Linked DNA regions of Homo sapiens. The protein of the gene in region 1 purifies or fractionates together with the protein of each later gene. This does not show direct contact. Each region holds a gene or a part of one and is shown on either strand. Other genes may lie near its edges.

Region 1 (3,500 bases):
AACACCATCGCTAACATGAGCAGTGAGTGTCCCATGTTCAGCTAAGGCCAGCAAGACCCATCCCCAGGGCATGAACAAAACGAACAGTCCCTAAATTAAAGACGGGGAGGGATGAGTGTGGGGTGGGGTGCAGCCGCCTGTGACTGCCATGCCACACCAGCGCCAAGGTAAAGGATGTGAAGGGAGAGCACGCCTTCCCCTTCCTGCCAGGGGAGGCCATGGTGGCCCAGCCCTGGCCTGGGTCCTTGAATTCCACCCCATCCTAGCCATTGAGGTCACAATTCTGACTCAAGTCTGCATTGCATGCACCAAGTCTTAAAGGGTCCTCTTATTTCCTGAAGAGGACTGGGTGGGGGGGGTTTTATCTGCATTGACTTCTCGTTCTTACATATGCAGGGCAGATGAGCCCCTGGTGTGCAGTCCTCTGCCCAGCTCCGGAGACCCGCTTCACTGGCCTGCGTCAGCTGCCGCACAGGCGGCTGGGGCAAGAATACAGCTGGGGTGTCTGGGGCAGCCCCTGATTTGTCTCCAGGTGCTTAAGCACGGCTCCACATCTGTATTTAAGAACTGTGACATGGGTGTGTCTAGTTGTGGGCTTTTTAGGCTGCTTCTTCCTTGGGGGACGGCTGGCCTCATGGCATTTCGTCTCAGGCAGGTGTTCTCAGGGACTGCACATACAGCTTTGGTTCTGAGTGTTCTGACACCTGTTTTAGGAGCACTTTCAAGTCACAGGCCAGGCTCTCTGCCTCCATCGCAGAGGCCTCCCCTCCTGTTCTGCTCCCTGAGTCTCCAGCCTTAGAAGGCTGTGCTCTCCCCTCCCCAGGCAGGGTTAAATCTGCAGGGCAGTGGGTGCCTTCAGTGGCACTGCCAGTCTCCCTGGGCTCTCTCTTGTCACCTATACTGCTGTCCCCTCATACCAGCCTCTTGCTGTGTCTTCTGTTCCTCCTGACGGTGCTGGCCCTCTAGAGTCTGAGACCCCAGAGCATGACTTCCATCATAGCCTCTGCTGCACTCCCCTGAAGCAGGACCCCACCCTGCCCTCATGGGGCCCTGGTGAGCCTGGTTCCTGGCTGCACCGTGGAGGCCAGCAGGCACTGAGGGGACCTGTGTGTCATGGTGAGTGGCTCAGGGGAAGCCCCAGGCTTAGTCAGGGCAGAGCTGTCCTAAGCTGTAACTCTGTGAGGCTTACTGATCTATGTGAAAAGAGGTACCATAGACAGGACAGGCGGAGGCTAAGTGGCCCCAGCCTGAGTCATGTGGCTGAGCCTCATGGAGCTGGAGGGCTGACCTGCTGAGCCCTGCCCTCTACAGAGGCACAACAGAGACGCCGACACTTTGCAGAATGGCGATGTGCAGGAAGACACAGCCACATTTGCCCCTCTCCCCATGGTCAGCCTGGCTGTGTCCCCTCCTCACTGGCTTCTCCTACTTTAGTTTCAGGTCCCAGGACAAGGGCCTCTGCATTTTGAGGGCAAACCTCGCAGTGGGCTCCCAGTTTAGGAGAAACTGGGCCATGGCGAAATCTATCCCCTCCTTGCCAGTATCGCCCGTGGGACCATGACAGCCTCTCTCTCCTGGGACTTATCAGAACAATATGAGGAGACAGAATGGAAGGCAAATGTCAACTGGAAGAAATTTCACCCATTTGTCCACAAAAAGGCTCTGAATGGGATAAGACAGGGAGAGCATAGCTCTGGAAATGAAAAGCTTTCTCTGAAGCAAGGCAGGGCTAGGCCTTCGGTGAAGCCATTCACAAAAGTAGGTGCACTCTATCCACCCTGAACCCCTCCCAGCCCTGGCACACCATGACCCTGTTTACAATGCATACAAAACAGCTCCCATGTTCAGAAACATGGTCTTGCAAACAGCTACTCTTCACATGCACAGATAAAGGTATCCAAAGTGTGCCACAAACTTGCCAGGGATAGAAATAAGTCCTGTACCCCTGTGTAAGGACATTTCCTTGGAGAATGAAGATCTAATGGTCCATGTGGCTTCGAAGGGGTTCACACCATTCGCATTGGTGTATGGGGTGTCTGTTTGCACAGGCATCAAAGACAATGCCCAGGAAGTTGGCTCACCTCACTGGCTCTTATGTTCCTCATTGGTACAATGGGAACAGTAACACCGCTTGCCCCATAGAAGAACAGAATTGCATGCTGTGAAGTGCAGCTCTCATAGCAACCTAGCCATCAGTGTGAGAAACCGAGGTGGGGCCAGGGTCTGGAGTGGGGTGAGCTTGCAGAAAGGCTGGGTTACTGGAGGCACTTGGCAGAGAAGAGCTGAGGATATGCTGGGGTGGTGGAACTGCCAACGTAGGGCTTGGAGGGTGGGACCTTACCTTAAAGGGTCCCTCCCTCTACAGCGTAAGCTCTGATATCATTCGAGACCTAGTTCAGACCTCGCCCAGCCTCAGTGGTGCCTCCTCCTCAGGCATGTTAGGGCATTAGCGAGTCTGCATAATCATGGTGTCTCTTCAACAAGGAGCTGGCAGATGTCTGAGGCTGGGACTCTTGGTCTAGTGGAAAGAACACAGGTTCTGGGATCAGACAAACCTGGGGCAAGGCGCTGGCTTTGTCACTTTCCACTGTGTGGTCGGTGCATCAGGTATGGGGGAGGACCCCACCCCACAGAGCTGTTGAGAGGATGGCAGGAGAATGGCAGGTGATGCCCAAGACGGCCCGGTCAGAACATGCTCAGTAACGCAGTGTGGCCCTGAAGGAATCATTGGCATTCAGTAAATAGGACCACAGAAGACCCCACATCCAGCCTCCTGATGGCCCTGAGAATGTGATGGCCACAGACAAGGCACATGGGTCCTGGTCCCTGGCAAGCAGGCCGCATAGGTCTGCCTGACTCCCAGAGCCCCCACCCTGTCGGCTGAGACCACAGACACAGCAGAGTCCAGAGGCCCCATGTGGTTCCTTCCCAACCCCTGTGCCTGAGCGGGCCTCTCCCACTGACCACCTCTCCTGGACCTTCTCCATTCCCCGCACTCCATCCAAAACACATTCATCTCTCAAAATATGGAAAAGCTTTTCAAATCGAAACCCCCTTTTGCCTCCATCTCCGTCCCAGGCCACAGCAGCTTCTCCTTGCTTAGAGAGGTGCTGCCTGGGGCTCCCCCTGCCCCACTCCCCTGGGCCCCATGCCGAGCCTCACTGCTCAGCTGACGGCACCTGCCTGGCCCTCACTGCCTCTCTGGCCACTTACTCTGGTTCTCTTCTGCTGGACCCTGGGCCTCTGCCTGTGTGCGAGCTCCACCTGTGGCCCCTGCCCTTGTCCCCTCAGCACACCAGCATGGTGCCCAGCTCAAGACCTGCTGTCCCCTGCCTGCCATGCAGCCCAGCAGGTGGCCATGGGCCCACATGGACCAGATGTGGCTAGCCCTCATCCCAACATCTCCTCCTCCTGAATTTCAGTTGGGTCGGCAGCACCAACACCCAGCTGGTCCAGCTGCACACCCAGAGCACCCAACTTCTCCAGCCCCCATGCCCACA
Region 2 (2,718 bases), on another chromosome or scaffold:
AATAAGCAGTCACAATATTAAGCAGTGGGGAAAGGGACTCTTAACTAGCTGAGGGAATGGATTGACACCTTTCCTTTGTTTATTTGCTAGATGCTGCATTCCTGGCCCGAGAGAAAGCGAAAGCAGATGCTGAATATTATGCTGCACACAAATATGCCACCTCAAACAAGGTGACTGGCTCCCTGGCCACTTTCCTAATGATGCATTTCGGGGTTTTGCTTTCTCTTTTCAGGAGCTCTGATATGATAGAAGTGATTTTATCCATTGTCAAGAAAGTGTAGTGACCAAGACATCCTCCAGAATTAGTCAGTTAGCAAGAAATATTTCACATTGATTGGGTAGGGACACAGGCCAAATGCCGTAATTCCATTCATTTGTACTGCTATATAAGGCTGAATAATTAATTAAGTTGAAGGTCTTCTGAAATAAGAGTGACAGAAGAGTAAAGTCTATTTAGAATTGCTTTCCAAATAAGGTAGTTTTTTTGGTAGATACTTAGCTTGATTAGAGCAGTATTTCTCATCAAAGGCATTCCTGGCATTTGGGGTTGAGATACTTTTTCATTGTTGAAGACCATCTCATGCATTGTAGGATATTTTGTATCCCTGGCCCTTGTCTACTGAATGTCAGTAGTGGTCACCAGTTGTTTTAACTGCCACACACACATGCATGTATTTCCATATGCCCCTTGTTGAGTACTCCTTGTTTATTGGATTTAAAAAACTATTCCAGTCATGAGGAATTTCATGTGGGATAACTTGAGAAGGCAGGTTGGGTGATATATAGGTGATAATTTGGTGTAAGGACTGGGGTAAGCTGGCTAGACGGTACAGGGCTAGTGAGCAGGGGCTATTTAAGAGGCAGCTAGAACTCCGATAGTATTCTGAGAAGGGAAGGGTATGTCCAAGATTTATAAGGTTATCGTGGAGCAGATTGGAACAGATAAAGGGTTGAGAAAGAGATTACTAAAGTGGATGATGCAGTTTGAAGGATTAGAGTCAAGTTTTAAGATATAGACAGGGCTTTTAATTTAGAAAGGAACAACATAATCCGTATTTAGAAGAAATGATAAGATGATAGAATGAGAGTTGTCAGTACTTTGAAAACCAATATAAATTTTAAAATGAACATAACATTGAAAGACACAGTTCTATAGACACAGAATGGAATTTGGCCAAAAGAAAGGCATGACAGGAAACTCCAGTTGAGGAAACTAGGAGTCCAAATCTAATGGGAGAAGCTCGTCAGGCACAAGTTTCAAGACCTTGCCATTGAGGTCTACCTTATTCAGAAAGGGGCAGTAGTTTTATGCCATTTTGAAAAATGTGACTCAGATACTAACCTATATTAAAAAGGCTTGAGGAAGAAATGTGGTTGTGCACTATGACCAGATTTGATTGGAGTGTTTCGACAGAGGATATGAATCACCTGGAGAAGATAGAGATCCAAAGAGTGAAAGATGTCAAAGTGTAGAAAATAAATGCTGTAGGACTGTGAAGGACAAGATGGACTTTTGCCTGGGGGACAGGCCAGGACTCAAGATAAGGAGAGGATCACAGAGCAGGGTCTGAGGGGCTTTGAAAGGCATATGTTACAGGGAACAGTGGAAATGGGTTTTAATCAAATCCAGATAGATTCTGGTTAGATACATCTTGGCATCCTGATTTAGACAAAACAAAACAGTGTGACAGAGGGAGATCTGGTGGTCGACGAGTTTTAATCAAACCCAGATAGGTTCTGGTTAGATACATCTTGGCATCCTGATTTAAACAAAACACTGTCACATAGATCTGGTGGTCGACAAACATCTGTCTGTCACAAGCAGCTTAAACATCCAGCTTCTGGGGAAAGGCAGAAGGCCAGATCAGGTGACAACTTGAGATTTTATTCTAGTTCTAGAATTTGTTCAAGAAAAGCAGAATCACAGCTAATGATAAGATAATGAGCACCAGCCCTTCCTTTGAAGTTCTGCTCTCATCCACTGACCTGTGTATCTCTCTCAAGAGAATCAACAGAGAACCAGGCATGATGGCTCATTCCTGTAGCCTCCCTGGAGGCTAAGATGAGAGTATCTCTTGAGCCCAGAAGTTTGAGGCTGCAGCAGCGAGCTATAATTGAACCACTGTATTCCAGCCTGGGCAACAGAGTGAGATCTCATCTCCAGAAAAAAAAAAGGCTGGGTGCAGTGGCTCACATCTTTGATTCCGACACTTTGGGAGGCCAAGGTAGGAGGATTGCTTGAGGCCAGGAGTTTGAGACCAGCCTGGCAACATAGACCCCATCTCTACAAAAATAAAAATAATTTTTTTAGAAAAGAGAATCAACAGAAACTCCAGACCAATTCCAGGTTGAATTCAACTAGATGAAATGAAAGTCACTTTAGAAATATTAGTTATTATCATTAGTTATCACAAATTGTTTTCCAACTCCCCCATCCTTTTATTAAAAAGTGAACAGCTTCTCTTGCATTAAGTCAGGAGCTTAATGAAGGAATTTTAAGTCAGGAACGCAGCTGTTAATGTGATAGCCACTCTCCAAAGTGAGAGAGGGTCATTGGCAGTTATTCAGACTTGACTCATGATACTCAGGAGAGCAATAGGTGAAATGTATATAGGGAGAGAGAAGACTGTTGCACCAGAGTATTCTGATGCCTTTGCTCTTGTTTGCTCCCACACAGCACAAGTTGACCCCGGAATATCTGGAGCTCAAAAAGTACCA

What was found.
Region 2: the proteins of CHCHD6 (region 1) and ERLIN1 fractionate together in Homo sapiens (co-fractionation; one large-scale study listed by BioGRID). This does not show direct contact.

Annotation. Positions count from the first base shown.
Region 1 is NC_000003.12:126,952,240-126,955,739, reverse strand, and holds part of CHCHD6 (MICOS complex subunit MIC25), read right to left. Parts: intron 1-3,500. UniProt on the Homo sapiens protein: Component of the MICOS complex, a large protein complex of the mitochondrial inner membrane that plays crucial roles in the maintenance of crista junctions, inner membrane architecture, and formation of contact sites to the outer membrane.
Region 2 is NC_000010.11:100,152,312-100,155,029, reverse strand, and holds part of ERLIN1 (erlin-1), read left to right. Parts: intron 1-90; coding exon 91-170; intron 171-2,677; coding exon 2,678-2,718. UniProt on the Homo sapiens protein: Component of the ERLIN1/ERLIN2 complex which mediates the endoplasmic reticulum-associated degradation (ERAD) of inositol 1,4,5-trisphosphate receptors (IP3Rs).